Homo sapiens: one gene and its partner. The protein of the gene in region 1 interacts with the protein of each later gene in a pairwise test. Each region holds a gene or a part of one and is shown in the gene's direction. Other genes may lie near its edges.

Region 1 (17,008 bases):
ATCCCGGCTCACTGCAACCTCCACCTTCCGTGTTCAAGCAGTTCTCCTGCCTCAGCCTCCTGGGTAGCTGGGATTACAGGCATGCGCTACCACACCCAGCTAGTTTTTTTTTTTTTTTTTGTATTTTTTATTAGAGACGGGGTTTCACCATGATGGGCCCGGCTGGTCTCAAATTCCTGACCTCAGGTGATCCGCCCACCTCGGCCTCCCAAAGTGCTGGGATTACAGGCATGAGCCACCACGCCCAGCCATGAATATTGTGGTGGCAGTCGCTGTGGCGGGCACCTGTAGCCCCAGCTACTGGGGAGGCTGAGGCAGGAGAATCGCTTGAACCCAGGAGGCGGAGGTTGTAGTGACCTGAAATCGCACCACTGCACTCAAGCCTGGGCAACAGATCGAGACTCCGTCTCAAAAAAAAAAAAAAAAACCCAAACCGAAAAACCATATTTATTCATTCAACAAACATTTATTTGCACATTGTGTACCAGGCTGTCATACGCATTAGGGATATAGCTTTAAACAAAACAGACAAGATGGAATATCCTGGAACACACATTCTAGTAACAATAAACAAACAAACAAATTCGTAAATAGCATGTTAGATTGTAAAATGTACTCTGGAGAAAAAGCTATATGGAGAAAAAGAAGTGTCTGTGGGGTTAATTTTAATTATGGCAGCCATGGAGGGCCTCACTGACAGGGTGACCGACGCCAAAGCGCCTGAAGGAGGTGAATGGGAGCCATACAAATAACTGGAGGAAGAGGTCCCTCAACCAAGGCAAGTGAAAAGGCCATGGGGCAGGAGTATGTCAGCAGTGTTCAGGGAATAGCAAACTGTCTACTGTGGCTTCAGAGGAATAAGAAGATGGCGTAGGATGGGGTAGGAGAGGATCTTGTAAATCATTATAAAAGCTCTGGCTTTTCCGCCAGGTGCGGTGGCTCAAGCCTGTAATCCCAGCACTTTGGGAGGCGGAGGCGGGCGGATCCACGAGGTCAGGAGGTCGAGACCATCCTGGCTAACACGGTGAAACCCGGTCTCTACTAAAAACACAAAAAATTAGCCGGGCGTGATGGCGGACACCTGTAGCCCCAGCAACTCGGGAGGCGGAGGCAGGAGAATGGGGTGAACCCGGGAGGCGGAGCTTGCAGTGAGCCGAGATCGCGCCACTGCACTCTAGACTGGGCGACAGAGCGAGACTCCGTCTCAAAAAAAAAAAAAAAAAAAAAAGCTTTGGCTTTTCGTCAGATGTGAAGTTATTGGAGATTATGTGTAAAATGTCATAAGAAAGAGTGACAGGCTTGCCCAGAAGAGTGTCTGGGGAATAAACTTGCATGGCAAAATGTTAGTTTTGGCCAGGCGCAGTGGCTCACGCCAGTAATCTCAGCACTTCGGGAGGCCAAGGCGGGAAGAGTTCGAACTCCTTGAGCTCAGGAGTTTGAGACCAGTCTGAGCAACATAGTGAGACCACCTCCCCCGACCGCCATCTCTACAAAAAATAAAAGAACAAAATTAGCCGGGCGTGGTGGCGCGCGCCTGTGGTCACTTGGGAGGCTGAGACAGGAAAATCGCTGGAGCCCGGGAGGTGGAGGTTGCAGTGAGCCGACATCGCGCCACTGCACTCCAGCCTGGGCAACAGAGCGAGACCCTGTCTCAAAACAGAAAACAAAACAAAATGTTAGTTCTTAGAATCGGAAACCCCTAGTAGAGGCCCAAAGTTGTTTTGCGAAAAGGAGACTGACGAGGAAACCCGGAGGAGTCCGCCCAAATAGGTGGAGAGAAGATCCCGCCGCGGGCGCCCCCTGGTGGATAAAAGGGCCGCGCGGAGGGCCGCTCTGCTCTTGAGACGGACACAAACGGGGCACAAAACACTATACTGAGACCGTTCTGAGGGACAGGCTTCCACCAAAATCGCCAAGGGCGGACCAGGATTTTCAAAACGGCCGCGCCGGGGGCGGGACCAACCCGATCCGTAAGTCAGCTGGGCAGCCCGGCGCCCGCACGCCGACCGGAAGGAACTGCTCGGAACCGGGGGCGGCGCCGGCGAGATGACGCAAAAGGGGTCGCGCCGAGGGTGACGCGTGGCGTAGACGACGCCGTCGGCCTGCGCCTGTCACCCCCCTCCTCCCGGGGTTTGTAGCGGAGGAGGAGCGGGCGCCATGGCGGTTCTACTGGAGACCACTTTAGGCGACGTCGTCATCGACTTGTACACCGAAGAACGGCCGCGTGGTGAGGCTTGAGCCCCACTCACCTGTCGCCGGGGCCCCCGAGCTTGTCTCCCTACTTTCCCTTCTCTGCGCAGTCCAGGGCAGAGATTGGCTAGAGCTCGAGCTTCTGGGCTGCTGGTGCCCGCGACTGGGCTATTTTATTAACCGGCCTTGGCTAGAAAAGTTTTTGTGACGGGAATTCGTTTGAGCCTTGGCAGCCCTTCTCCCGTATTTTGTGTTGGCCAGTCCGGTGGACGGTGCTTGCGGTCATTAATTGCCTTTGGGAGTGTGTGTGTGGGGCGTGTGTGTGTGTGATTCGAGCTGCACATACAATACCCATAGCTTTTGTGCCTTTATTGTGTTTACTCGTGAGAGGAACATAGGAACTATTGCTTGGTGTGTAATCGGTTAAATCTTGATGAAGGCAGTTAGGGTGTGCTTGGCGCAGCGAGTGTGGGCATACCGCTTAGGTGGAGGAGGAAGAGGTTGTCTGGAGTGTGGACTGAGCCTTCGAGGCACTGGGCTAAGTCCTGGGCTTGGCTTCTTGCCCCCGAGGGTCTGATTTTTCCACTGGGGGAAGTAGACACAGGAACCCATTTTAGTTTTCTATGTGTTATGGTAGAAGAATGTGTAAGTTGCCACGGAAACCAGAAGAGGGCGGCTTCTTTGGTGGGGGGTGGGAAGAAGCAAAGCTAGCGAATACTATATAGAACACTTGAACTAGTTCTTTCAAAGATGAATGGGAATGAGGGTTTTCTTAGCTTGGACTTTCTTTGTTTGGAATTTTCTGGAAACGGCAAGTAGTTTGGTGTGGCTGGAAGGACTGGTGTGAGTCGTGGAATGGTAGACTCGAGTGTGGTCAGATACGCCTAGGTCAGTCGTGAATAGTCTTGTGTGCCCTACTGATGATCAGAGTCCTTGAAGACTTTAAAAGCAGGATTGAGGCATGGCATACTTGTTTTGAGAAGATAATAGGCAGCGGTGTGGAGAATGTATCAGAGTCAGGAAGAAACTGAGACCAGGAGAGATTAGTTACAAACAGGGTCCTACCCACATGGAATGCAGAGCCTATCAAAGAAGGTGAAATAAGTTGCAATATTGTACAATAACTACCTCCTGCCGTGCTCCGCTTTCCCTCGCACGCAGCTATTCCTCCCTCCTCTCCACCTGGCGAAAACACTACAAACTCTCCCGTACCATTGTTACCATTCTTTTGCTGTTTCTTCTAAACAATATTCTTCTCCACTATTGTCCTTCTGGCAAACTTACTACTTATTATCTAAATCTCAGATCAAGCATCATCTCTTCTTTGAAGCTCTCCCTCCTTTCTAAGCAGAGTTACCTGAGGGTTCCTCTGCTGTGTCTTAGGTCTTTTATAAACCACATGACACATTTTATTTTAACATTTACCTATTATCCTGGTGTTGTTTACAAGCGTGCCCTCGCTCAAGAATGTAAACTCCAATGAGAGCAGGAACTATACCATAATTATCATCTCTATATCCTGAGTACCCAGTACAATGTCTGCTACTTTTAGGGCACACACTAGAGGTTCATTATGATGACTAATGGATATAAATGTGTTGTATTAGTTAGGACCCTTTGTTCAAGTGATAGAAACCCAACTCAAACTGGCATAAACAAAATAATTGGTTGCCTCATAATACTGGGGTAAGCTTGGATCGAGTGGCTGGATCGAGTGTTTCAAAGAATATCATAGGGAATTTTGTTTTTTATCTCTTGATTTTGCTTTTCTTTGAGTTCCTTTGACGCTCTGCCCATGTAGAGTAGCACCTGGCAAAATAAATGGGCCTCTTTTCCCAGAGTTATGAGGAAATAAAGGGGTGTAGAGCTACCCCACCCAATTAACAAGCAGTGGGTCTGCAAAGATAAGCCCATAACAATAAGTCCACCCCCTGTACATATTTGTAAGCATATGACTGGAGATGTGCTTACATGTGTACCTGCTATATTTATACTCACTTATCAATCTATGATCAACATATCCAGACTTACCTACCTTCCATTCTTTCTTCCTTTTCTTTTTTAACTTTTTATTATAGAAAATTTAAAACACAGATGTAGAGAGAATCATGTAAATGAACTCTCATGTCCACATGACCAGCTTTGTTTAACAGCTGTGAACACATAGCCAATCTTGCTTCATTTATAATACCCCCACCTCCAGTGCATCTATTTAATCTGTAATTACTTCAGTATGTATTTCTAAAATATAACGTCTCTTTAAAAAAAACAAGAAAAAATGGAACTATGAGCTTAAGTACCACATAAGTGACAGGTTAAAAAAGAAAAAAAACTTGACAGGGAAAAGGGAAAAATACTAAAGGAAAGAGAAAAAGTTGTAAAAAAGAATAAAAAAACAGAACCACAGATCTTATCACACTTTGAAAAAACTAGCAATAATTTTTAGTATCATTTAAACTTTCTTATTATCTCATAAACTTCTAAAAAATATGGTGATTTAAATTAGGACCCAAAGTCCATATATTGGTTAAAATGTCTCATATATGTTTTAATCTATTGGTTCTCCCCCTTTTTTCCTTGAAAAAATTTTGAGAAACAACCTGGGTGCTTTGTCTTGTAGAATTTCTCTTGTTTGGATTCGACTGATTATTTACTGGGTGCGTTAACATATTTTTGTGTCCCCTGTTTCCTATAAATTGTTCTTTAGCTTCAGAGCCTTGATTAGGTTCCAGTTTAATGTTTTTGGCAAGAATATTTCATATAAGATAGTGTGTACTTTCAGCTGCATCACATTCAGGAGGCACTTGATGTCTGGTTGGCTCTGTGATGTTAAAATTGGTCAGTGGGTTAAGGCCTTGTTGCGCTTATAAATTGTTCCCATCGGATTTTGATGAAAGACCTAAAGATTTTGGCAGCCATTGATGATCATTGCCTAAATTCATTATTTTTGTTTCTAGTAAAAGGACCACCCCTATCTGTTAAACATGAAGCCCAGAAATATATTCAAGAAAAACAACTGCAAGACTGATATTCAGCACTCTTCAACAGCTCAGCCCCATCTTATCTCTCCAGTCTTTTCATGCTCTATTACTGTGTAATACCAGACTATTACAGAACTTTGGTGTTTTGGACCTCCCCTAAAACATTTAAATTTCCACTTCCAGGCCTTTTCATAGTCTTCCAGACCTAAAATGCTCACCCTTCACTCTCTGCTAGTCCAGTTCTTTTAATGCTTGCCTTAACCTTCCCTGAGGTTTTCTAATTTCCCTAGCCAGAAACAATCTTTTGAACTCTTGTGGAATTTTTAAAACTACTTTTTTTACCATTTTAAATAAGTGGCACACATGTTATTAATTAGATATGCCCAGTATGTAACTACTTGTGTTCAGATGTAAGGACCCTAATTTAATGTAAGCTTTTTGAGGGCAGGGATTGCCTCATATATCTTACTGTCTGTTTGGTTTCTAACTTAGTGCCTTAAGAGCTTGTTAATGTGTCTTTCCACGACTAGACTGTGAACTTTTTGGGAGCAGGGACCACAGTTTAATGGCATTTGTGATGGCAGTGTCAGGCATCTAGAAGGTACTCAGTAAATGTTTATTGGATAAGCAGATTAACTTGTATGAGAAAGGTTGTTCATAAGTGTATGGATTTTTATAAAGGGCTGTTTAACTATTATTTAAAAAATGACCCCGGGTGTTTGACTTTTTCCTAATTGATATAATCCGTATCCATTTTTATATATTCTGCTAGATCCTTTTCTACTACAATATGCTCTTTAAGTGTTCTTTTTTCTCGTAATAAAATCAATCCATCAGTAAATGATTGCTTATAAGTGTCAGTTTTCTGTATTAGCCCAGATGCCCCAAAACTCCTATTAAAGGAAAAAAAAAGGTAATTTAAAATGTTTTTTTTCTAGACTTATTGCCCTTTTATTTTATTTTATTTTATTTTATTTTGAGATAGAGTCTTGCTCTATTGCCCAGACTGGAGTGCAGTGGTGCGATCTTGGTTCACTGCAACCTCCACCTCCTGGGTTCAAGTGATTCTCCTGCCTCAGCCTCCCTAGTAGCTGGGATTACAGGTGCCCGCCACCATGCCTGGCTAATTTTTTTTGGTATTTTTAGTTGAGACAGGGTTTCACCATATTGGCCAGGCTGGTCTCAAACTCCTGACTTCAAGTGATCCACTCACCTCCGCCTCCCAAAGCGCTGCGATTACAGGTGTGAGCCAGCGCCCGGCCTATTGCCCTTTTTTATAGCTTTGGACATTTGACTTTTTTTTTCTTTTAATAGTAATTTAGAAATTACATTTTACTGTGGCTTTACTTATTTAAAAATGTGTTTGTGGATTACTGTGATAAATTTGGTATTTACTTTCTTTCAGCCTGCTTGAATTTCTTGAAACTGTGCAAAATAAAATATTACAATTATTGCCTTATTCACAATGTACAGGTGAGTTGGTAGATATTAGTCATTTCCTTTGTTATTGGAACTATCTAACAAACTCTGTGAATTAACAAAGAATCCTACATATTACAGAGGGATTTTATCATACAAACTGGCGATCCTACAGGGACTGGCCGTGGAGGAGAGTCTATCTTTGGGTAAGTTGTTTTATTTATTTATTTATTTATTTATTTATTTATTTATTTACTTTTAACCTCTGGAAGGGCAGAACAAATTCTTTTATTCTTAAATGAGGAAAAATATAATTGCTCATGCTTCAATCTGCATTTTAAAATATGGTTTAAATTTAGATTTTTTCCCCCAAGTTCCCTAAAAAAAAAAAAGTAATATTTTGAATTCTGTTGGCATTTCTGTAAAGAAATAATTGATAACCCTGTATGTTACTAGTACTTCTGTATTTCATTTTGAGAGTACTTACATTTATAACCTTATATGTTTTTTCAGCCAACTGTATGGTGATCAAGCAAGCTTTTTTGAGGCAGAAAAAGTCCCAAGAATTAAGCACAAGAAGAAAGGCACAGTGTCCATGGTGAATAATGGCAGTGATCAACATGGATCTCAGGTTAGGAAATGAGTAAGAATATGAGATTTGCTTAGAAATGAAGGACTGGAAGGAGCCCACAGAGTTATTTTTTAAACTATCCAGTAAGGCTTAGAGGGTTTCAATCAGAAATATGTGTTAGGGGAAAAAATGCACTTTTTCTATATTAAAAAATATTATTTTCTTCTTTTAAATGTAAAGCATTCCTATTGTGAAGAATTGAGAAAATACAGAAAAGTACAAAGAAAAACATTACCTACAACTCCACCATCCGTGATTATCACTGTTCACATTTGTGGCTCATTTTTCAGTATTTCTTTTTATTTAATTAATTAATTTATTTTTATGAGATGTAGTCTCACTCTGTCTCCCAGACTGGAGTGCGATGGCACAATCCTCGGCTCACTGCAACCTCTCCCTCCCGGGTTCAAGCAATTCTCCTGCCTCGGCCTTCCGAATAGCTGGGATTACATGCGCCTGCCACAACACCTGGCTAATTTTTATATTTTTAGTAGAGACGGGGTTTCACCATGTTGGCCACGATGGTCTCAATCACGTGACCTCATGATCCGCCTGCCTTGGCCTCCCAAAGTGCTGGGATTACAGGCGTGAGCCACCGCGCCTGGCCGTTTTTCAGTATTTCTTACTTTTTTAAAAACATTACGCAGAGTACCTTCTATTCATTGTCTTGTTTAATTCTCCCAATGACCCTGTTAATTCTCCCAATGACCTACTTGTTAGAGTAGGTACTTCTGTTTTCTACTATATACACATGAAGTTGAGTCATGGCTTGTCTAAGTATTTTGTTTTATTTTATTTTATTTTATTTATTTAGAGACAGAGTCTTGCTCTGTCAGCCAGGCTGGAGTGCAGTGGTGTGATCTCGGCTCACTGCAACCTCCGCCTCTCAGGTTCAAGCGATTCTCCTGCCTCAGCCTCCCGAGTAGCGGGATTACAGATGCCCACCACCACGCTCGGCTACTTTCTGTATTTTTCGTAGAGACAGGGTTTTGCCATGTTGGCCAGGCTGGTCTCAAACTCTTGACCCCAGGTGATCCACCTGCCTTGGCCTCCCAAAGTGCTGGGATTACAGGTGTGAGCCACCGTGGCCGACCAAAAAATACTTTATTACTAACAAGTGCTTCTGATCATCTGAGCCTTCAGTAAATCATAATCTTTTTGCTGGTGAAGGGTCTTGCCTTGATGTTGATGGCCGTTGACTAATCTGGGTGGTGATTGCTGAAGGTTGGGGTGACTGTGGCAGCTTCTTAAAATAAGACAACTGACTGGCGTGGTAGCATACATCTGTAATCCCAGTACTTTGCGGGGGCAAGGCAGGCAGATGGGTTGAGCTCAGGATTTCGAGACCAGCCCAGGAAACATGGTGAAAACCCCATCTCCACAAAAAAATACAAAAATTAGCTGAGCATGGTGGTACAGGGCTGTAGTTCCTGCTTCTTGGGAAGCTGAGGTGGGAGGATCACTAGAGCCCAGGAGGTCAAGGGTGCAGTGAGCTGTGATTGTACCACTGCACTCCAGCTTGGGTGACAGACCTTGTCTTGCAAATAAATAAATAAATAAGACAACAGAAGTCTGCCATGTTGATGGACTCTTCCTTTCATGAAAGATTTCTGTGTATCATACGATGCTGTTGGATAGCATTTAGTAGAATTCTTTTAAGATTGAAGTCAATCCTCTCAGACCCTGCTACTACTGTATCAGCCAAGTTTATGTACTATCCTAAACCTTTTGTTGTCATTTCAACAGTTATCATAGCATCTTCACCAGCAGTAGATTCCATCTCAGTAAATCACTTGGCTGGGTGCAGTGGCTCATGCCTGTAGTCCCACCACTTTGGGAGGCTGAGGGGGGCGGATCACCTGAGGTCAGGAGTTTGTGACCAGCCTGACCAGTATGGTGAAACCCCGTCTCTACTAAAAATACAAAAATTAGCTCGGCGTGGTGGCAGGCGCCAGTAGTCCCAGCTACTTGGGAGGCTGAGACAGGAGAATTGCTTGAACCTGGGAGGTGGAGGTTGCGGTGAGCCGACTTTGCACCACTGCACTCCAGCCTGGGCGATGCAGCAAGACTGTCTCAAACAAAAAAAAAAAAGGAAGAAAACCACTTTGTTTGCTCATCCTTAAGAAGGAGCTCCATATCTGGTCAGGTTTGATCATGAGATTGCAGCATTCAGTCCCATCTTCAGGCTCTACTTCTAATTCTCGTTCTCTTGCAGTTTCCACCACATTTGCAGTTACTTCCTTCACTGAAGTCTTGAGCCACTCAAAGTCATCCATGAGGGTTGGAATCTACTTCTTCTTAACTTCTGTTAATGTTGATATTTTGACCTCCTCCCACAAATCACGAATGTTCTTAATGACATCTAGAATGGTGAATCTTTTTCAGAAGGTTTTCAATGTACTTGCCCATATCCATCAGAGGAATCACCATCTATGGCAGCTATAGCCTCACAAAATGTATTTTTTTTTAATTTTTATTTTTAGAGATGGGGCCTCACTACGTTGCTCAAGTGATCCTTCTACCTCAGCCTCCTGAGTAGCTGGGACTACAGGTGCATGCCACATGTCAGGCTGTATTTCTTAAATAGTAATACTTGAAAGTTGAAATTACTCTTCGATCCATGGCTGCAGAATGACTGTTATGTTAGCAGGCATGAAAACAGTATTTTTTTTTTTTTGAGACAGATTCTCACTCTGTCACCCAGGTTGAGTACAGTGGTGCAGTCTCACCTCACTGCAACCTCTGCCTCCTGGGTTCAAACAGTTCTCTTGCCTCAGCCTTCTGAGTAGCTGGGATTACAGGTGTGCACCACTACGCCCGGCTGATTTTTTGTATTTATAGTAGAAATGGGGTTTCACCATGTTGACTGTGTTGGCCAGGCTGGTCTTGAACTGGCCTCAAGTGATCCACCTGCCTCAGCCTCCCAAAGTGCTGGGTTTACAGGTGTCAGTCACTGTGCACAGCTGAAAACAATATTAATTTCCTTGTACATCATATCCATCAGAGCTCCTGGGTGACCTGGAGTATTGTCAATGAGCAGTAATATTTTAAAAGGATTTCTTATTAAAAGAGCAGTCATATTTAAAAGGATCTTTGTTCTGAGCGGCAGGTCTCAACAGTGATCTTAAAATATTTGATAAACCCTGCTGTAAACAGATGTGCTGTCATCCAAGCTTTGTTGTTCCATTTCTAGAGCACAGGCAGAATAGATTTAGCATCATTCTTTTTTTTTTTTTGAGATGGAGTCTTGCTCTGTCGCCCAGGCTGGAGTGCAGTGGCGCAATCTCTGCTCACTGCAAGCTCCACCTCCAGATTCACGCCATTCTCCTGCCTCAGCCTCCCAAGTAGCTGGGACTACAGGCGCCTGCCACCACGCCCGGCTAATTTTTTGTATTTTTAGTAGAGACGGGGTTTCACCGTGTTAGCCAGGATGGTCTTGATCTCCTGACCTCGTGATCCACCCGCCTCGGCCTCCCAAAGTGCTGGGATTACAGGCGTGAGCCACCGCGCCCGGCCGATTTAGCATCATTCTTAACGGCCTTGGGATTTTTGGTATAGTCAGTGAGCATTGGTTTCAACTTAAAGTCACCAGCTGGATTAGCATGTAACAGAAGAGTCAGCTTGTCTTTGAAGCTTTGAAGCTAGGCATTGACTTTTCCTCTCTAGCTGTGAAAGTCCTAAGTGGCATCTTCCAATATAAGGCTGTTTCGTCTTCATGGAAAATTTGTTATTTCATGAAGTCATCTTCATCAGTGATCTTAGCTAGATCTTCCAGATAACTTGATGCATGCTGCAGCTTCTTTTTTTTTTTTTTTTGAGACAGATTCTCACTCTGTTGCCCAGGCTGGAGTGCAGTGGCATGATCTCAGCTCACTGCAACCTTCGCCTCCTGGGTTCAAGCAATTCTCCTGCCTCAGCCTCCTGAGTAGCTGGGATTACAGGCACACGCCACCATGCCTGGCTAACTTTTGTATTTTTAGTGGAGACAGGGTTTCACCATGTTGGTCAGGCTGGTCTTGAACTCCTGAGCTTGTGATCTGCCTGCCTCGGCCTCCTAAAGTGCTGGGATTACATAGGCGTGAGCCACTGCACCTGGCCACTTGCTGTAGCTTCTGTGTCAGCACTTGCTGCTTCACCTTGCACTTTTAAATTATGGAGACAGCTTCTTTCCTTAAATTTTTCTTTTCTTTTTTTTTTTTTTTTGAGATGGAGTAATTCACTGCGCCTGGCCTCTTTCCTTAAACTTCATGAATTAACCTCTGCTAGCTTCAGACTTTCTTTTGCAGCTACCTTCCCTCTCTCAGCCTTTATAGAATTGAATAAAGTTAGGGCTTGTTTGGAATTAGGCTTTGGCTTAAGGGATCGTTGTGGCTGGTTTGACCTATGTAGATTACTAAAACCTTCTTCATATCAGCAGTAAGCCTGTTTCATTTTATCATTCATGTGTTCACTGGAATAGCACTTCTAATTTTCTTTAAGAACTTTTCCTTTGCATTTACAACTCAGCTATTGTTTGGTACTAGAGGCCTAGCTTTCCGCTTATCTTGGCTTTCAACGTGCCTTTCTCACTATGCTTAATCATTTTTAGCTTTTGATTTAAAGTAAGAGATGTGCCATTCTTCCTTTTACTTGAACACTTAAGAGTCTCTTGTAGGGTTAATTGGCCTCATTTCAGTATTGTGTCTCGGGGAATAGGGAGCACTGAGAGGGAGAAAGATGGGAATGGCTGGTTGGTGGAGTAGTCAGAACACATACAACATTTATGGATTAAGTTCACCATCTTATATGGGCACAGTTTGTGGTGCCCCAAAACAATTGCGGTAGTAAGATCAAAGATTATAGATGGTAATAACAGATACAATAGTAATGAAAAAGTTTGAAATCTTGTGAGAATCACCAAAATGTGAGCCAGAAACATGAAGTGAGCCTATGCTGTTGGGAAAATGGCACCAATAGACTTACTCAATACACGGTTGCCAGAAATCCTTAATTGTAAAAAATGCAGTATCTGCAAAGTGCAATAAAATGAGGTATGCCAGTATAAGCTTTGTACTTTTTACTTAGTTTTGGTAACAAGTGTCTAAGAATTGGTGCAGTAAATGTGGACTCTTAACTTTCATGTATTTTTTTGTCAGTCTGTAACTGATTTCAGTTTGAGTTATGTATTATTTTTATGGTATTTATTATGTGTCCTTCTTTATAGTTTCTTATCACCACAGGAGAAAATCTAGATTATCTTGATGGTGTCCATACGGTGTTTGGTGAGGTGACAGAAGGCATGGACATAATTAAGAAAATTAATGAGACCTTTGTTGACAAGGACTTTGTACCATATCAGGATATCAGGTATGGTTACAATTTGCTATCTGAATGTACTAGAATGTTTTAATATTGAGATGTTTAACACGTAGTGGTATGGATAGGAACGGTATGCATAGGACTGGTTTCTGGATAATTCTAATCCCAAAAGGTGAATTAATATAAGACTGTAAGAATCTTTATAATAAAAAGGACTTTTTGTATTTTTATACTTGTACTAATTATTTATAATTATGTTTGGAGGAATTATTTATTTATTTATTTTTTGAGACGGAGTCTCATGCTGTTGCCCAGGCTGGAGTGCAGTGGCGCGATCTTGGCTCACTGCAAGCTCTGTCTCCCGGGTTCACACCATTCTCCTGCCTTAGCCTCCCAAGTAGCTAGGACTACAGGCGCCCGCCACCACACCTGGCTAATTTTTTGTATTTTTAGTAGAGACGGGGTTTCACCATGTTAGCCAGGATGGTCACGATCTCCTGACCTCATGATCCACCCACCTCAGCCTCCTGAAGTGTTGGGATTACAGGAATGAGCCACTGCACCCAGCTGGAGGAATTGTTAATGCTTTAATTTAGTTTTTTAATTGAGAAGTAGGGCAAAAGTACTAAGATTTAGACAGTTATATTAGTTTACATCTTAAAGTAATGCAGGGTGATAAATATGGTATCACTCAATGCAAAACAGTAACACTCATTGTGAAAGTATATCTAGGTTAGTAATATCCATATGCAATATGGGTTTTTTTTGGCCTTAGAGATAATCAAGTAATTTTTTGTAATCTATTAAAATAAAATAGGATTCTGAAATAACTTCAATGTATAACATTTGATTTGGATTTATTTTGTAAGGATAAATCATACGGTGATTTTAGATGATCCATTTGATGACCCTCCTGATTTATTAATCCCTGATCGATCACCAGAACCTACAAGGGAACAATTAGATGTAAGTAAAGCCCTCTTATGATTAAATGTACATTCATATTAATGATTTGTATGGATTTATCTTTTTCATCTGTTAAAGTTAATTTTTTCCGAATTATTATCTTGCTTAATTATATTCAACAAGTTTGGAGTTCTTTTTCTTTTCCACAGAGGTACTCATTTTTCTAGCTGTCTTCTCATTTCTCTAATTTCCTTTCTTCAGTTTCTTTTCTACTGAGACAACCTCAGCTCTAGAAGCTTACATGAACACCTTGGGAAAGTGTTTTTCTTGTCATCAAATTAAACTGTTATCTTGTGAGGTAACTTTTCAACTGGGGACACTCTGGAGCCAGGCTAGAACCCAGAAATTTCTGTGAAACAGCGCAGACTGTTCCCCCACATATTTTAAGGTTTATGTGGCTTCCTGAAAGCTGAATTTGTCTTTATGGTTGGGATTGGTGCTTAATTGTCAGATCATTTCTCTTCATTCAGCAGTTAGAATTGGATAATAAATAGTGTCCATATAAATATTTATTTATTTTTTTGAGATGGAGTCTCACTTTGTTGCCTAGGCTGGAGTGCGTGGTGGGATCTCGGCTCATTGTGGCCTCTGCCTTCCTCATTCAAGCAATTCTCGTGCCTCAGCCTCTTGAGTTGCTGGGATTGTAGGTGCATGCCACCACGCCCAGCTAATTTTTGTATTTTTAGTAGAGACAGGGTTTCACTGTGTTGGCCAGGCTGGTCTCGAACTCCTGACCTCAAGTGATCCACCTGCGTGTTCTCCCAAAGTGCTGGGATTACAGGCACGAGCCACCATGCCTGGCCTATTTTGATTTTAACAGAAGCCCACTTTGGCTAATATTTTAGAATTAATATAAATCAATTCTTGGAGGTTTATAAGTTTGTCTCAGTTGCTGTCCAATTAATTATTAAAAATTTTTTTTTAGAGACAAGATCTCACTGTGTCACCCAGCTGGAGTGCAGTGGTGTGATTGTAGCTCACTGCAACCTTGATCAGTTACTGTTTTAGCATGTTTGATATAACTAAGAATAAAGTATGTCTTCTATGTTTCTCAGATTTTTTTATTCTTTAAATATATACATGAGTAACTTCTGTCTTAACAGAGTGGTCGAATAGGAGCAGATGAAGAAATTGATGATTTCAAAGGAAGATCAGCTGAGGAAGTAGAAGAAATAAAGGCAGAAAAAGAGGCTAAAACTCAGGCTATACTTTTGGAGATGGTAAGATAATTATCTTTGTTCAAATTGTTCTGTAATATATCTAATAATACTTACTGAGTGTTTATTTCTGGCTCTTCAGTAGTCTTAAAATGTTAAAAATTGAGTTATGATTTTTTTCTGATTTAAATTTGGTATGGCATAGTAATAAATTGGCTCTACTGTGAAAATAAATTTGACTCTACTGTCAATATAGTGCTAAGTGCCTTTTTAAACAGTGGGAAGTGGATCTCTAACTTATTAATTGAATTTCAGTTGTTTAATATTCATCTCATTCTTAAAGAGTGTTTAGCAGGCTGAATTTTATGTATATTAAAGAATAGTTCTTCACTGTACCACTCAAGTGTTAAGATTAAACAGAATGGTAGTTGTAGGGCAAAATAATGGGTGGAAACTGAGCACTCTAAAATATACTGCTTCTCTGTATTACTAACAACCTGAAGTCATTTGGGGAATAATAATTCAGTAGATGATTAATTGACCTACTTGGTATTATTTTCCATTTCTTATTTTTGTAGAATAGGCATACCTGTCATATCATAGATAATAAATATTGGAATGAATGGATAATAAAGTTACTATTTTATATAATAGAACTTTCAGATTTGTAGTCTGTTTTAAAGTTTATTTATTTATTATTTTATAGAGACAGGGTCTCACTCTGTTGTTCAGGCTGGAGTACAGTGGTGTATGATCATAGCTTGCTGCAGCTTCCAACTCCTCAGCTTAAGCAATGCCCTTGCCTCAGCCTCCTGAGTTGCTGAGACCACAGTCACACACCACAATGCCCTGCTAATTTTAAAATTTTTTTTGTAGAGACAGGATCTCCCTATGTTGGCCAGGCTTAAGTTTATATTACCATCAACTGTCTGAATGAACAAATAGTAAAGGCTGTATAGTTCAAGAAAGCTTTACTGAAATTAAAAAAATTAATTGAAAATACACATTTTAATGAGCACACTGTGTATCTCAGAGTATTGACTCTGAACACCCAACACCAAGACAAATTCTAAGAGAATTACTACACTTGAAAGATATGTTGAACAATTGGGCAGAAAGAATAAGTTACTTATAAGGGAATGAATTTAGATTGTTATCAGACTTTTCCACAGCAACACTTTGGAAGTTTATGCCAGAAGAAAATAGATTAACATACTTTTTAAAACTTTTTGTTTTCAGATAATTTCAAATTTATGGGAAAAAGTACATAGAACTTCTATATACCTTTTACCCACATTCACCAATTTTTAACATTTTGCTACATCTGTTTTATGATTCTCTCTTTTTCTCTCTCTCTGATTATACAAGCACATAAACACACATTTTTTTTCTCGACTATTTGACAGTAAGTTGCCTGTTATTTCCCTTTACCTCTTAATCAGTGTGTATTTCCTAAGAGCAGCAGTATTCAATGTGTATAACAATATGTACGTATTCACAGTGTAGTTACCAAAATCAGAAAATTTAGAAGTGACAGAAATTACAGTTTATAGGGCCGGGCACAGTGGCTCACGCCTGTAATCCCAGCACTTTGGGAGGCCGAGGCGGGTGGATCACGAGGTCAGGAGTTCGAGACCAGCCTGGCCAACATGGTGAAACTCCGTCTCTACTAAAAATACAAAAATTAGCTGGGTATAGAGGCATGCGGCTGTAATCCTAGATACTCAGGAGGCTGAGGCAGGAGAATCGCTTGAACCCAGCAGGCGAAAGTTGCTGTGAGCCGAGATCGCGCCATTGCACTCCGGCCTGGGCAACAGGGCGAGACTCCGTCTCAAAAAAAAGAAAAAAGAAATTACAGTTTATATTCCAATTTTGCCAGTTGTTCTAATAATATCTTTTATAATTGTTTCCTCCTCCAGACTAGAATCCAGCTCGTGACTTATCATCTGTTGCATTTATTTTGTAGAATATTTTCCTTTTTTTTTTTTTGAGACGGAGTTTCTGTTGCCCAGGTTGAAGTGCAATGGCATGATCTCGGCTCACTGCAACCTCCACCTCCCAGGTTCAAGCGATTCAGCTGCCTCAGCTTCCCAAATAGCTGGGATTATAGGTGCCTGCCACCCACGCCTGGCTAATTTTTTTTTTTTTTTTTTTTTTGAGACAGAATCTCGCTCTGTTATCAGGCTGGAGTGCAATGGCACGATCTTGGCTCACTGCAACCTCTGCCTCCCGGGTTCAAGCGATTCTTCTGCCTCAGGCTCCCGAGTAGCTGGGATTACAGGCGCCTGCCACCACATCCAGCTAATTTTTTGTAATTGTAGTAGAGACAGGGTTTCACTGTGTTGCCCAGGCTGGTCTCCAACTCC
Region 2 (17,008 bases), on another chromosome or scaffold:
TTAGAGTAAAACCCTGAGTGTCCTGATGAAGTTTTTATATCATAAATGAAATAAGCATATACTTGCTTTTGAACAGTGTGCTTCTTGGGGAAATAAAATAGAAGATGAAATAAAAGGTACAGCAATTCTGATTATGTAGCAGCCATCTATTGAATTGGACCCTTTCCTTGAACTAAATGGCTTCCTTTTAAGTAGTAATGCTTGGTGTAGAGGCCATGGCATTCCATTCTCAATGCCAGACAGAAAGAAGTCTCACAGGTCATTGCCCTGCAGCAAATAGCTAGCAACCAGTTATTACTTAGAGTTATGACTGTGAAAATCTGATACTAAAATGGTGCTAAAGAGTTTTATGAGGATGAAGTTATTTTTGAATGGTTCAAGGAGAAAGAGCAAGGAGAATTAACTCTGAGCTGTGTCTGTTTCCTGTGTTTCAGAGCAGGGCTTGTCTCTGTAATATATGACTGTTAGTTCACTGTGGTTTTCTTTCCTTCTCTTCTCAGGAGGACAAGAAGACCTCATTCTTTCCTATGAGCCTGTTACAAGGCAGGAAAGTAAGTTTCCCAGCACGCTTTCATTCCTAATTTCTGGGCCATAAGAGGTGACATCATTGAAGGAGGGAAAGAGTGAAGGACTAAGGAGAATAAACTCGGCTTAATGCTCTGTTGTCTTGAGACCGTACCTTACTCTTACGCTGTCTCTCACTTTCTCTCTCTTTGACCCTATCACCAAACAGACAACTTCCTGCTGAGTATGGGCACTAATAGCACCTAAGAGAAGGATGCAGCCCTCCAGATGAGTGGTCCTCAATGGGAAGGAACACATTCAAATTACCTAAAGAGCACTAGCTACGAGACTGGTGAATAAATTCTCCTGAGAGACTGATGTCAGCTCAGTATTGAGAATGACTTTCTAGCAGATCTGCCTAAGATGTAGGCTATCTGTAAGCTGCTGCTTTTTCCTGGAGGCATTTATACAGAGGCTAATTGCTACTGACAAGGATACTGCAGAGAGAATTCAAGCATCAGATGGGGACTTGTACCCAATGAACTCTCAGGTTCCTTCTAATCCCAGATACAAGGAAATCTAGAAACTGTAGCAAAGTATAGAGAGTATTTTGATCTGGGGAAAAGAAATCATGAAAACATAAGATGTTATTACTACTAACAATTACTTTTTATAGTCATATCTAAACAATAGCCAAACAGCTGGTTTGGATTCTTTTTTCTCCCACTCAGTTGACTAAATTCAGTTGTTTTGACATTATGTAGGCAGAGCCAGAGAGTAAGCAAAACTCCTCCAAATGTTTCTTTTCATCAACAGATACTGCAATTGCCTTTCCCTGCTAGTAGATTCCAGAAAGTAGGCACTGCCAATCTCCTGAGTGTTAAACATCAATTTCCCTATGCAAGGCTGTATGAGTAATTTATCCAGTGAAGTAATGCCCTTAGCATCTCTTACTGTCTGGCAATTAAGAATCACCCTTGCAGGACAGTTTTGCAGTTGTTTCCAACTCTTTCTCTTTACCTACATCTTCCTTTCCCATTCTGCAGTAAACTACACCCGGCCGGTGATTATCCTGGGGCCCATGAAGGATCGGATCAATGACGACTTGATATCTGAATTCCCTGATAAATTTGGCTCCTGTGTGCCTCGTAAGTGTCATTTTTCTTTCCTCTAGGAAAAACAAAAAGAGCTTGGATTTCTTTATGAGATGGTAAAATGTAATTCCATCCTCCAGTAGTCTCTCCAGTAATTCAAATACCAACCATTTCCGATTAGCTGAGTGCCTTATTTAATTTATTTGCCTAACACTTTTCATTTATGCTGCCGTGTGTCATTCTGTATTTAATAAAAATAATAATGTTTTCTCTAAACTGATTGTAGCCCCTTAAAAGGCAGGATGAATTTTTGTGGCCCCCAACCATTTAAAACAGCATAGGATTTATGATAGGCATCAGTATGTTTTCATAGATTGATCAAAATGCCACTGAAACATTATTTTTTATAGGATGGAAGAGATCGGAAACAAAGCCATATATTAAAATCCTCTCAGGATGACTTAGGGCCATATGTCAATCCCAAAACCCAATAGGCTTTCCCATGTTGACAGTCCCAGGTTTAGGGAGGGTGAAGACAAGAAAATGTGTAACACTTCAATTTGACCTCTAGGCCATTACAGACTTTAAACTACTTTCTTCTCATTATAGATTATCATCAGGCTTCTGGTCCCTCTGATTGTAGCCTTATTAGATTCTAACTGCTCTGCCTCTTCCCCTCCCCACCCCTACCATACTTTCTCCACTCATTCACCCCGTCTACACCCCGACTCTGTCAAACAGAAATGCATGCAGACCTTCTACGTATGTAGACAGGTCCATCAGGAAATTTTAATTTATTAGATAATGGAGCTCTTACATCTGATACCAACAAATATTTCTCTTCCATTCTATGTGTTTTAAGCCTGATGCTTTCAAGTGTCTCTAACATTCCAGTACTGCAAATTTTACATGAGATACTTAAGAATAGCAGGAATTGTATGTGTCCAGTACATGGCCAAAAGACTAGGATGATTGCTGTATCTCATGAAACAATTCCCAGCAAGGGCTCTGGGAAGAGATCCTGCCATAGAACATATCCTGAGAAAGTCTTCAGACAGGAAGGAGCAAATGAAACTCCAGGTCGTTTACAGCAAGCTTCCAGCTTGCTCCTCCACTTTTGAGAGAAAGAAAACAGAAGGTACTTAAGCATTCTTTCTGCTTTCCCTTTCACCTTGCATATTCTCTCTTTTTTGAATTAATAGAACCATTTTGTGATAGTCAATAGATGTTCATTGTACAAAACTTCAAAAACACTAAAAAGAAAGTTAAACGAGAAAATTAGAAGTATACAAAATCCCACACAATACCCAGAGATAACATCATTGTTAATATTTTTGTACATTTCCATCTATTCTTTCTATGCATGCATTTTTTCTCTGTGATGATTTTTTTGCTTATTTAAAATTTTATATAACTATTTCAAATGATTATTATATCCCAATTAATCATTCTTTATGAACATTTTGGTTTTTCCCTATTTTTCACTATTATGAATTGTGACAAAAATATCATCGTAATTGTGTTATAATTATTACTTATAAAATAATATAATGAATATCTTTAAGGATAAATCTGTATCTGAAGTTTTGATCATTTTTAAAAACATATTTCTAGGAAAAAATAAGTGAGTCAAAGATTAAAAATATTTTAACAGCTTTTATTCATATTGCTAGATTGCTTTCCCCTTCTCTTCTTACCAAAAAATTTAGGTGAAATGGTTAGAGTTGCTGATTTTTAGTCCTATCTAACTGTGATTATCTTATTTTATATATGTTGAGAGTCTGAATTTTATGGTCCTTTATAGAATGTTAAGTTTTTGTTCTGACAGGTGATAATTTACTGACACAGCAGCTTCTTCCATTTGTGACATGGTTTTAGACTTTGTGAAGATGGGTGTAGAGTAAGTCTAGAGTAACCTTTTAAAATGTGGCCTTTCTGGGATCTCCATGGGTTCTGACTCAACTCCCGTGTCTTCTAGCACCATGTGATGTCTAAACTCTCCATTTGGAAATGGCCTCTAGGTAGAGAGGTGGGGTGAATGCTCTCTCATATGTTTCTCTTTTCTCAAAGATTACAGCCCTGTACTTCCTGTTGTCTGATATCTGAAAACAGTTGTTTCATATATTTTGTCCAGTTTTTTAGTTGCTTATGGTGGGAGGGTAAGACTAGTACCTGTTACTATGTCATATTTCTTCATACTACATATTTCTACATATCAATGTTGAGGATGTGGTGGAGAATATAGGTGTAAAGCAAGTTTATGGGTATAAATGCACCTTAATTTTATCATTTTTTGTTTTATAAAGATACTACGAGGCCAAAGCGAGACTACGAGGTGGATGGCAGAGACTATCACTTTGTCATTTCCAGAGAACAAATGGAGAAAGATATCCAAGAGCACAAGTTTATAGAAGCCGGCCAGTACAATGACAATTTATATGGAACCAGTGTGCAGTCTGTGAGATTTGTAGCAGAAAGAGTATGTTCACCAATCTTCTTACACCTCCCCTGAAGAAGGTTTCTAGGTTGCAAACTGCATTTTTTTTTTTTTTTGGTCATTACTCTTTCTTGATTGCAATTGTAAATTTTGATTTAATAATTTAAAACATCCAAGCAGAGAATCACCTTAGAGCAATGTCATTAATCTTTGTTCTAATTTCAATAAAGTATTCTCACTGACTTGGAAAAAGTAGGAAGAGGGCTTTGTCTTTGACTCACTATCTGAGGCCCCAATACACAACCTTGATTTTATTAAGGCAGGTTTACTACTTTAGTTGTAAACCAAGGGGATAGCATTCCTGAATTATTTTGTTAGAGGAAGTTATTTTTTTTCTCTCTCTCTGAAAACTTGACATCCTCATGGTAGAAGAGAAGATAGATGAGAAGGGCTGCCCAGCCTTTTGCTCGCAGAAGTTCTAGCTTAGAGGAGGTGTAGATGCTGCTATTATCTTTTTGCTGGTAACTTCAGGGGCATGGAAAAGAGAAGAATGTTCAAGAGAGGGTACCATAGGAAGGCACCTGGGTGTGGCTACACAATCTGCCTACAGAGGGATCCTATTTCCTGTGAACACAGAGAACCAGTATCATAGGAGAAGATATTTGTTGGGTTGATTTGATTTGCCATGACCTTTCTCAATGTACCGCTAAAGAATTAAGTAATTTTGATGTCTATCTAAGAATACACTAAGAAGTTGCATCTATTTTCCTCCCTCTCAAAAGTTCAGTTCTATCAACTAAATGAATACTGGTTCTAGTCAAACTGTCCTGGATAATTGCACCTATTTTCCTCTTTGTTCATGTTGTTAACTTGAAATGTTCTGACTGGTGAATAATCAACCAGCATTTATACATGTTATGTGGCTGCTGCACTTCACAGATAGAAAACTTGAAATCTATTACCTAAGTAATAACGGCTTGAACCATCTTAGTGGGTTTCTCAGATAAGAAGACTTCAAGTATTCACTGGACTGTATTCATTTTCATGTGAACATTATAGATGAGATTTTAGCCCTTATTATTGATTTAGTATTGTTCCTATCTGCATAAAGTGCCTTTTTTCTCTTCTTGCATAAAGTTATTCTAGCCTCAGGGTAATGAGGACATTTCTCTCCAGGAGGTAGAATATGATGTGGCAAATGTATCTGCATATCCAGAAATGCTTTATAAAGCAGCTGCTTGCTCTGAGCACTCATTGTGGTGGAAGCCAAGTTAAATGAGGTGTGCTATAATGTAATAGCATTTTTATTTGTTAACAAACAAGAAATTTACATACCTCATGCAAGCCTTTCTCTCTTGGCATTTAACCCGCATTTAATTTATATATATATATATATATATGTTTTAATTATATATTTTATATGTGTGTGTGTATATATATATATATATATATATATATATATATATATATACATATAGTTTTTATTTTTTTTGAGATGGCATTTCACTCTTATTGCCCAGGCTGGAATGCCATGGCACGGTCTCAGCTCACTGCAACCTCCACCTCCTGGGTTCAAGTGATTCTCCTGCCTCAGCCTCTCAAGTAGCTGGGATTACAGGTGCCCACCACCATGCCTGGTGAACTTTTTGGATTTTTAGCAGAGACAGGGTCTCACCATTTTGGTCAGGCTGGTCTCGAACTCCTGATCTCAGGTGATCCACCCGCCTCGGCCTCCTAGAGTGCTAGGATTACAGCCATGAGCCACTGCACCCAACCAACCATATGTTTAAGTTAACCATTTTTGTGTCTGCCCTCCACTAGACTGAGTACCTTGCAGACAGGATATGTACAAGTACTTGGAAAAATTCACATTATTCTCAATCTTCCACACCGAATGTTGGGCAGGGTGAGACAATGAGGTGTCTATTTTTTCCAACCAACAATTCTGTTAGTGCTCCAGACTTGGGTTTGCATGCTCCTAGCACTAAACTATTGGGCAAGTTAGTTAGTGTGAGTCTTCTGTAAAATGCAGCTGATAATACCTACCTCAGAGATTTGGGAATTTCTTCTGACAATTGTGTTCAGAGATGGTTTTTAAACTTCATGAGAACAGACTCAGTCACATAACATACGGCTGCATGTCATCTTTGTGTGTTACATCAGGTATTTAACTGAGAGAACATATGTAAAATGTCCAGTCCAGTAGCAGACACTTTGTAAGGGGCTAGTTAGTATTAGTTATTGTAAACACTCAATGATGACCCTATATATCGATTTTTATTTACTCTTTGCAGTGATCTTTTTCTGACTTTAGAAATCCAGCATCCCCTACCTTCCTCTAAAACCTACATACATTAGTTTCCTTTTGTTGGATTATGGCCATGCTTCCTATATTAACTTCATATTTTTCTTCTCTTTCTACCAGGGCAAACACTGTATACTTGATGTATCAGGAAATGCTATCAAGCGGTTACAAGTTGCCCAGCTCTATCCCATTGCCATCTTCATAAAACCCAGGTCTCTGGAACCTCTTATGTGAGTAGAGGGCATTGGAGGCCTTCATCCAACTGACTCCCTGTTCTGTATTATACTGAAAATTACTAACAGGATTTTGCTGGGAATGCTTACAAATGGGAAATGCCATTGTTGATTTTTCAGCATTCTCTTTTTTTGAAGATATATCAAAGTTCTTTTAAACAACTAGAAACATAATGTCAGTGATTTCTTTTTTTAACATCCCTCATTTTAACAATAATAGTAATTCCTTAAAACATCTTCAATAATGTTTCCTGATTTTTATTGTTTTACTTCACGGATTGTTTTCTTTGTTAGTTTTTGAGGTTTTGTTGTTGTTGTTTTGAGGATAGCTTGGCTTGATTTGGTTTTTTGGTTTGCTTTTGTTTTCCAAATGATAGGAAGCAATCATTTTTTAATTGTCTCATACTTCTGAGGCAGGTCTATAAGTAAATCTTTTTAAATGTGTAGATTTTTTATAGAGAGAGCAGACAACGTTTGAGACTTTTTTCATTGGCATTTTCCTTGGTTCTCTAATAGAATTCTGATGTTCCTTAATTAAAACTTTACATACATAGAACATCGTTCTTAATAGAGTTTTCTTAGTGGCGTGGCAGTAAAACATCTGTAACTTAAACCAGTAGCTTCATACCTGTGCACTCAGGGTTTTTTCTTTTTTTTTCCCCTCCAAAGGACTTGTGAAATAACTTCTTTCAAGAATCATTAAACAAAGTGGGCAGACATTCACGATCTGACTGTAAAGTCAGTATAGGCAACTCCCATTCACAAAGGTGAAGCTACAGTAGATAGAGGTAACCAGAAAAGGGGCTACCAGCAGGGACCTGAAAATTGATCAGGCAAGATTTGGTTCTTTACTTTGCCACTGATCAGTTAAGTAACCTTGGGCAAATTGCTTGACCTTTCTAAGATTTAGCTCCTCACCTCGAAACGAGGCATACTAATAAATACCTCATAGAGCTAGTATAAAGGTTAAATAACAAGATTAGGAATTTAGTAAAGCTGTTCATGTACTCTTTGGCATATGGTAAGTACTCAATAAATAATACCTATTATTATTGTAAAAGATATAAAATTACTTCATTATAAAGGAATAAAACTATTTTATCATTATAAAACACATAAACAGTACCTCTTCCATGACAGTGCAAGAGATAATGCCAATGTGTCTGTCATGAGGGCCTTGATCAAATTTTGCCTTCATCTGGGCCTCAAGACCATAGTGTTTGACAGGGTTCAGGAGTGAACCACAGAGTACTGGAAAATAATGTTTATGGAAGGACCGAAGAAACAGAAATTATTTAATCCCAGTGGTGAAAGCAATTGCTTACAGAGGATATTAACTGTTCTGTGTCTCCTCTGAAGACAAAGAAGCAAAGCAAACTGCAGCAGCTGGAGTGGCAGCCTGAGAGAATTAAGTTAAATACATAGTTGAGCTCTGGGGAAATAGCCAGAGATGTACCTTGAAAGCAGAATATAGTCCCATATATAAAAAATGGACAAGGATTCTTACCAGGATAAAAAAAGTAAGATCGGGAGGTCACTGACAGTACCTTCAGCCCCATGAATTTAGGTATTAAATTATAATATAAAGAGTTTTTCCCATGGCTGGCACATGGAAAAATATGTACTAATGATAAAATAATGATTCTTAATATTATCATCCCCAATAGCATGTATTAAATTTCTCCTTGTATAGGATACTATGTCGGGCATTGCACAAAGTGAATTAAGCAAGTACAAATTTCATGATGTAAAATTGATTTATAATCTGTCAAGAGCCTCATAAATATAAGTAATGCTAACATTAATGAGAAGAAAAATAGTCCTTACTTCCTGGGAACAGCCATCTTAAAGGCCTGTTTCAGAAATAGAAAAATAAATCTTCATATTGTAAACACTCAGTGGGATAAATGGCTTCCCAGGGGAATGAGGCCTGAGGGAACGACAGCAGTGGCACATTTGGTCCGGTGCAATATTAGGAGACAGTCCCATCTGGCATTCCATAGGAGAAGGTCTACTGCCTTCCACAACTATGAGATGACTTATTTTAGTTATGCCTTAGGGCACTGTCACAGCCACTTATCACCAAGGAAAGTTAAATGTACTAAAGGCTGGACTTCACAATAAGGACAGTGAATCTGACATAATTTGCTGCAGCCATATTCATGGGTCTCAAGTGCAGTGATGGTGACATTCAGACCAATGCAATCTACCTACTAAAGGTTGGATGTTTACTTTACAGTTCACTCTTTTCCAAGGCTTTTACTCCAGGAGCAAAGCTGCCATGAATTGCCCATTCCCCAGAGAGTAGTGAATGCTAGGTCAGCCGGAACAAAAGCATGACAGCTGTCACATTTACACATTGATACATCATCACACACATTATTTCTCAAGTGCATCATCCACATCAAATCACAGAGCTTATTAGCACATACATAGCTGACTCTTCAGAGGAGCATAAAATCAAAGATGTGTATGAAAGGGATGTTCTTTTTATATTGTGCCACCATCTGACTTCTGTTCCCTTTCCATGTGGCAATCTCCCTTCACCCTGCCACTTCCAATCTGCTTTTACCTTCCTGCTCCCATGATGCTCTGTGTTTACTTCTGTCTTCAACTATCTTATAATTATGTTTATCTAGCTCCCCATTTGTTCATTCATTCATTCATTTACTCATCTATTCATTCAACAAATAAATGTTGAATCAGTCTCCATGCCACATGCTGACAAACAAGCCATGGTCTTCGCCCTCAAAGAATTACTGATCAGTCAAGGAGACAAAATAAATTCACAGGTCAGAGAATAAAAACCTAAACTAAGTCATTGCTGTAATCAGTAAAAAGGGAATTCAGAGAAGACAGAATTCTTGGAAGGCAGGTCGAAGATGATCCAGAACTATGTGATTTCTTTCTTTGAGACAGGGTCTTGCTCTGTCCAGCCCAAGCTGGAGTGTAGTGGTGCCATCATGGCTCACTGCAGTCATGACCTCGTGGGCTCAAGCCATGTTCCCACCTCAGCCTCCCAAGTAGCTGGGACTAAAGGTATGTGCCACCATACCCAGCTAATGTTTGTATTTTTTTTGTGGAGACAGGGTTTCACCCTGTTGCCCAGGCTGGTCTTGAACTCCTGAGCACAAGTGATCCACCTGCCTCAGCCTCCCAAGGTGTTGGGATTACAGACGTGAACCACTGTGCCTGGCCCACATGATTTCTTGACATCTGGAGCAAATATTTATCTTTCTCTGAAGAGTGTCCCTTGGTTTAGCCCAGCATCTTCTCCACCCACGAGTAACATCCATTCACAGCATGTACAGCTGAGACTGTTTGGAAGAAAAATTATACATAACACCCCTCAGGACAAGATGAGTTTAGCAACAAGAGTTCAGGAAATTCTCACTACTTTGTATTTCAGCCATTAATGTCTAATGTCAATATATTGTTTTTTTTTTTTCCAAATAGCCTCTTTTGAAAGATATCAAGTCTTGGTATAATAGGAAGTCTAACTGAAAATTGGTTTAAAAAACCAAAACCTTGAGTTCTTACCCCAGATTACTCTTCGTTAAATACACAGCCTTAAGCACATCCCTTCTTGCCTCTGTTACTTGCTCTCGAAAGGAATTGACTAAGGCCAGATGTTCCAGACCCAAATCTCTGGCTTCCTAAGCAGCATGCAAGACGGTAATGATTTCAGAAATTCTACATGCACCTGTGATGCATCCTGATCAGCCAACCAAATTGCATTTGGCAGGACATTTTTTTTTTAACACCTGGAAGACCCGGAAAGATAAAGCTGCCAGTAGTTAAGAATCAATAGATTAGGTTTTAGAGAGAATTCAAGAATTTTTCATTTCTCTCCCACCTTGATTTATCCTTGAGCCTTTTAAAAAAAATTTATATATAATAGTTGTACAAATTTTTGGAGTATATGTCATATTTTAATACCTGTATACAATGTGTAATGATCAAATCAGGGTAACTGGAATATCCATCACCAGAAATGTTTTGGGAACATTACAGTTCTTCTCTTCTAGCTATTTTGAAATATTCCTATAACTGCATTTTATACCCCTTAACCAGCTTCTCTTCATCTCCCCTCCTGCCTTCCCTTCCCAGTCTCTGATAACTACCATTCTACTCTCACATTTCAGAAAGTCTGAGATACACTAGAACAAACTCCAAGAAAGGGTGGTCAGGAAAGTTCAGATTTAGAAATCACATCCAATGAGGGGATAGATGAAGCAATAGGACAGTTTATTCTGAAGAAGTAGAAGCCTCAAGACACACTTAAGCACTTTACTTAAATATCCTAGGGCCTACCATGGAGGATATTAGGTCCCTGCAGAACAGGGACCAGTGACTACAAATCATAAGGAGACATATTTGGCTTCAATCCAATGTGGGACCAAGAGACTGCCCTTTGAGAGAATGAGCTTTCTGGCCGTGAGTCCTTGTTGCTGAAATTATTCCAGCACAGAGGAGTCCTGAATGAAGACTAAAAACCTGTTGCTAAGATTACACTATGTTTTCTGTAGGATTTATTTTTGCCATACATTTTAATTTTTTAGGATTTGGAATATTCCCTTTATGTTCTAATACAAACCCTCATTTTCCCAGGGAGATGAATAAGCGTCTAACAGAGGAACAAGCCAAGAAAACCTATGATCGAGCAATTAAGCTAGAACAAGAATTTGGAGAATATTTTACAGGTAAGTTCACTTTTACCCTGGTAGTGTGAGAAAGGGGATAAATTGTCTGACATTTGGCACAGAGAGGGTTCTGGGCCTGGTGTACTTGTGCCCTAAAACCTTCCTGTTGAGAATCCCTAATATCTGTTTCATATACAAGGAGTATCCCTCTGCTTCACCCATTTTGATGTAAAACCCTGGGTTCTCCTGAGAGTTCAGCTGCAGCCAGCTCCCAGGTTCCCACCAGCCCTACCCAAAACCATGGGCAGGAGATACCCCTGAGCTATCTCCTACCATGAAAAGGATTTGAGGCATTGCTACCTCATTAAACTATCTCCCTGATATCATCAGAAAACTTGAAAAACAAAATTTTAGGGCTCAAAATGGTCAGTGTCCAAAGCAGTTACTCTTGAGAAGAAGCTTGGAGGCGTCCGTCCCCAGCTCCATGAGCTTTCATCAGTGTCCCTATCAGCAGCACCTGAACAAGATGCTTAAAACTTCCTCATGTTTCAGTTCACTGTGTCAAGTCTCAACCAAAACTGCTTTTTTTTTCTTTTTAAATGTTTCCTTGGAAACATGAAGGGGAATAGAGGTTTTCTTCTGGAGAGCCTGAGTTCTGAGTTCTGTATTCCTATATACTTTCATAGAACACTGAGTAATCAGACTTTGTGAAATTTGCCTTACACCTGGTTCCCGGAGGTTTAAAAACAAGAACTTTCGAGCTGGGCTTATGCCTCTAATCCCAGCACTTTGGGAGGCTGAGGTGGGTGGATCACCTGAGGTCAGGAGTTCGAGACCAGCCTGGCCAACATAGTGAAACCCCCGTCTCTACTAAAAATACAAAAAATTAGCTGGGTGTGGTGGCAGGCACCTGTAATCCCAGCTACTAGGGAGGCTGAGACAGGAGAATCACTTGAACCCAGGAGGTGGAGGTCGCAGTGAGCCGAGATCGTGCTACTGCACTCCAGCCTGGGCAACAAGGGTGAAATTCTGTCTCAAAAAAAAAAAAAAAAAAAAAAAAAACCCAAGAACTTTCTTCCTGGATTACCATATGTGAAGTTAGATGTTTTATTTTTTACCTTATTCAGAATATAGAAAGTGTCAGTGCCTTAGCAGTTTGTAAATATCTTGAATCAGGTAATATTAAGTAATCTTTCTGTCAGTAACCAAGATACGAGCTGTGTTTCATCCTAAAAGAACATCCAGGTAGGAGAAACAAAAGTGTACATTTTGACAGTGGTTTATATTTTGTATACAATACAATAATATATTCTGAGGATTGTTTTTAAATATCTAAATCATCTTTCAGTAGTAATTTATTTTTAAGACCTAGTGTCATATGGATAATACTGATGTGTTTTGGAAATCTTTCTACAAGATAACTTTTGTTCAAATGAGACAATAAAATGTACTTAAATCTACTCCAAGTGACTTAGTGTTTTAGGAGATACACAACTGAGCAGTTTGTTTATATTTCTTCCTGTTTATGTTTCTTATAAATAGTGGACTTATGGTATTCTCAATATGAATAGCTCTGTATGGTAAAAATCTCAAGTTACCAGAGATTTGGGGAATTAATGGGTTTTCCTATTAAGGGCTTTGAGGGTTGGGAGGCTAACTAAACTTCCCTCTAAAATCTTCATTATTTCCTCGGTGTCTACAATATCTGAATTTCTGCTGCTGCCAAAATAAGTAAATATACAGACTGTAAGGCCAGTTTTCTTTTCTAAATAGGGAGCTCTCAGTCTGAAAATTGATCATTGCCCAGCTCAGTGCCTGGCTCAGAGTAGGCACCCATAAAATATTGGTTAAATAGATGAGTGATAAATTGTCCAGTACTACAGACAGACATGTAGAAAGTGCAAAGACTGTGAATCATTTGTTACTGATCCAGGATATCCATTGAAAGCATTTCTTAAAATCATGAATGTAACTTTGCTTATATGAATTTTCTGCTTCTTCTTACTAATGAAAAATGATATGAAGCTTCCTGATGAGTCATCTGCTACTGATTTGAGCCTCCAATGTGTAAGTGATGATTGTTCTTCACCATCCAGGAAATTATTTCTAATTCTGGGTGTGTTTGCTTTTGTTACAGCTATTGTCCAAGGAGATACTTTAGAAGATATATATAACCAATGCAAGCTTGTTATTGAAGAGCAATCTGGGCCTTTCATCTGGATTCCCTCAAAGGAAAAGTTATAAATTAGCTACTGCGCCTCTGACAACGACAGAAGAGCATTTAGAAGAACAAAATATATATAACATACTACTTGGAGGCTTTTATGTTTTTGTTGCATTTATGTTTTTGCAGTCAATGTGAATTCTTACGAATGTACAACACAAACTGTATGAAGCCATGAAGGAAACAGAGGGGCCAAAGGGTGGGACAGAAAAGACATTGCAGTATGAAGGAAGGCTTTGGTTTGCTCAAAGTGCCAGGTGTAGGGATGAACCTCTGACGGGCTTTCTGCCCAAGAGATGAGATGAGAGCCTCCTCACCCCAGCAGATGTCCAGAGCTGATTTAGCTGCAGAGCTCTCTGTGTCTTTTGCTTTAAAGAAAAATTGCCAGCACTCGAACCTCATCAGCCTTCCCATTACCCACATCTGTAATTGGTACACTTTGAATTTTATAACTATGCACATCTTTTGATTTCTTAACAAGCAAATGAAAGAAAGAAGGAAAAAAGAAAGGAATCCCTTTGGAGATGACATACTATCAGGGAAGGATAAGTGTGTAGTTTTTTGACTGGCATCTGCAAAGACAAGAATTTCATAAAATTTGCAAGTGTATGGAGGACTAACCTCACTGACAGGAGGGGATTCCACCTGGGATTAGCTTTATGATTGTTGATTGCCTATTTTGCCATTTATAAACTGAAAGAAGGCACTAAAGATGAGAATAATTTATACAATAAAAATATATTAAATGTATAGAAACAAATTTCTATAGGTTAAAAAAGTTTTGTGAAATATTTTGTAAAGACTAATATTGAAAGACTAAATGTATGCAACATCAGCAGATGATCAAATTCAAGACCTGAAAGTTGCACTCTCCCTTTTGTTGCCAATGATCTGTTAAGAGCATCTGAGTTCCTTTTAAGTCTGACAAAGACTTCTTCCTCACTTACCTCCCTTCCACATTAGTGATACACTCTCATGCAGCACATCCCTTAATGAGTTGCCCTCATGGATATTTTTGGAAGACATTTGGTTAATGCATTTTTTTATGCTGATGGCTTTTCAGAGACAAACTTATGCAAATGATCTAAAGGGAAGTTTTTGCTTTCCTCTAGTTAAATAACCTGAGCCTGCCATGCAAATAGTTGAATAACTTTGTTCCTAGTTACTGACATACAATTCTTAAAGGACCATTTAGCATTTTGGCCAACAATGAGTAATTAGGATTAGTACCTTTTTGTTTTACAGAGTAACTGAGAGTTTTGTAACATCCAGAGATGGTACTAGAGCCAATGAGAGATCTGTTCCTAGATGCACTATTTCTTTGAGGAAGAGAGAGAAGAGAAGTGTCTGGTTGGGGGTGAGGGGGTGCAGACTTTTTTGTTTCTATGTACAGAGCAAAGAGATAGAGTCACAAGGAAAGACAATTAATGACTTTGAGCTCAACCAACTGAACTGCCTTTCTTGGAGCTGCACCTGGACCAAGTTTATTTTTTAACAATTATAATAACGATGATTTAAAAAAAGAAACCTCCCAAAGCCTATAAACTGAACTAGAAGAGTTGGTTTCCCACTTTAGAGTGGATGGCGACATCAGCATTGCTTTTGCCCATGGTGTTTGGGGAGAGACTTTTCAGTGATAATAACCACTCTACTCTGGGTTCTGTGCATGCCCAGACTAAGCCCCATCGCCTTATTTCTGGGGTACATCCAGACCTGGCAGGGATTCTGCCACACTGTGCAGCAAACCAGCATGTAGGCTGGGTAGGAGAGCAAGAGATAGAGCCATCAGAGTGATGGGGCTTCTTCACAGTAAGAACATCGGAGCTTAGAATGAGAGTCTCTTTCCAAAAACAGGCATTGTTCATCTTACGCTAAACATCATTGTCTGCCTGGCTACAGTCACCAAAACAAAACAGAAATGCAAAATTATGCATCTTCCCATAGTCCTGAGGCTTCCTTTGCCAATGGAAGGGCTAGCAATGCATTCTCCCTCTCATGAAAGTTAAATTTCCAGAGACTTCCTTAGATTGCTCAAAATGTTAAAGATATGTCCATGTCTGCAATTCGCCAGTTTCAGGTCAAGGCCTACTTTCATCAATATTGCTCCCAGAAGTTTTCTGACACCAGAATGCCATTCCTGATCCCAGCTCTATTTTTAGGCCACCACGATAACTTCTTTGGTTTCTCAACTGAGCATGCAACCATTTATTTAAAAGACTGTCATTAATGAGTAGATGTTTTCGCGGGTCGTGTGATGTGCTTTCCATTTACTAGTGTTGCTGTGGCTAAGTACAATCAAATTGAACCACCAACCCTTGGTTTTGTAGTAATATAACTATTTATTTTCCTAGTGTAGATGCTTTCAGATTAGAATTGGCATTTGCACTGATTTTTTTATGTAGATTTATATAAATATATAGATACATATATATTTGCTTGAAGAATCACCAAGCAAATTGGTGAGAGGGTCTTTTCCAATAGAATTTACACCTCCATTTGTTGTGTTGTCTTGCACTTCCCAATGTTGATGTCTCTATGGCTCCAATGAACTGGTGTATTTTGCAGCAAATCTGATGACTTGTATGGAAATGGCATGAAAGTTACCCAGATTACATCTGGTGCAAATGCACTCGGAGCCTGGGGCCAGACTGGTGCTAACACTGCAAACTTTGTCCAGAGCTCTCTCCAACCTGAAGGCTTGCTGGGGGTGCAATGTCACCTTCACACATGCTGGGCCCTTTCAGAAAAGTGCCAGATCGTGTAACTGGTGCTATTTTTCATGCTCTGGTACAATGTGTAGCACCACGGGGGTCTCAGCTTTACCAAAATCAAAATTCCATTTGTCAGCTAAGTGCAGAGGCATTTGTTTTTTGCTCTCCTCCCACAGAATTGTCGGCCATTTATTTGCAGGCCTTTTGCGGGATTTCTTGGCTATTTATTTGCAGGCCTTTTTTCCCAGCCCCAAATTCTTGGGTTGGCTCTGTCTGCTTAAAGAGCCTGTCTTCACAAAGCTGCACTCGGGTGCCTCTGTGCGCTGTCTTAGATCCTACTGCCGGCCCTTCAGGACTCCGAGCCAGGAAAGAACTCTCCAACCTCTGGCTCGAGACTCTACTTTTTTTCTCATTCTTTTCCTTACTCTCCTCCTCCTTCTACTTCCGACTAATTCCATCTCTTTTTTTTTTTGTTCCTCTCCTTTTCCTATTCCTCCTTCCCACCATCTCTGAGTTGTTGACTTTCTCCTATAATCCTTCTCTATTCCCTTTCTCTTTTTGTCCACCTCTCCTTTAGTCTCTGTTTCTCTGCCCTTCTTATTCCTCTTCTGTCCTTTCTCCTCTCCTCAAATCTCTGATCATCTTCTCCCGTACATCCCTGTATTGATTTTTCTGTCCTCTAAAGGGCTCATGGCTGATTCAGACAGCAAGTCCATGCACTGGACTAATGACACAAATACTTTAGGTCGCCGTTTCACCTACTCAGCCCAGAAAGTAAAGCTGAGCGTGAGGCCCTGACCTGGAGCCTGCTCCAGCCCGCCTCCCGGAGCCAGCCTGCACCGTTGCCCTGGCAGCGA

What was found.
Region 2: the proteins of PPIL4 (region 1) and DLG2 interact in binary tests that used the Homo sapiens proteins (3 or more experiments, as listed by UniProt).

What each region holds. Positions count from the first base shown.
Region 1 is NC_000006.12:149,531,155-149,548,162, reverse strand, and holds the start of PPIL4 (peptidyl-prolyl cis-trans isomerase-like 4), read left to right. Parts: upstream 1-2,119; 5' UTR 2,120-2,157; coding exon 2,158-2,227; intron 2,228-6,576; coding exon 6,577-6,644; intron 6,645-6,731; coding exon 6,732-6,796; intron 6,797-7,103; coding exon 7,104-7,221; intron 7,222-12,424; coding exon 12,425-12,567; intron 12,568-13,388; coding exon 13,389-13,485; intron 13,486-14,588; coding exon 14,589-14,705; intron 14,706-17,008. UniProt on the Homo sapiens protein: PPIases accelerate the folding of proteins. It catalyzes the cis-trans isomerization of proline imidic peptide bonds in oligopeptides.
Region 2 is NC_000011.10:83,456,270-83,473,277, reverse strand, and holds part of DLG2 (disks large homolog 2), read left to right. Parts: intron 1-500; coding exon 501-551; intron 552-1,550; coding exon 1,551-1,652; intron 1,653-3,904; coding exon 3,905-4,077; intron 4,078-6,460; coding exon 6,461-6,570; intron 6,571-11,184; coding exon 11,185-11,276; intron 11,277-13,353; coding exon 13,354-13,460; 3' UTR 13,461-17,008. UniProt on the Homo sapiens protein: Required for perception of chronic pain through NMDA receptor signaling. Regulates surface expression of NMDA receptors in dorsal horn neurons of the spinal cord.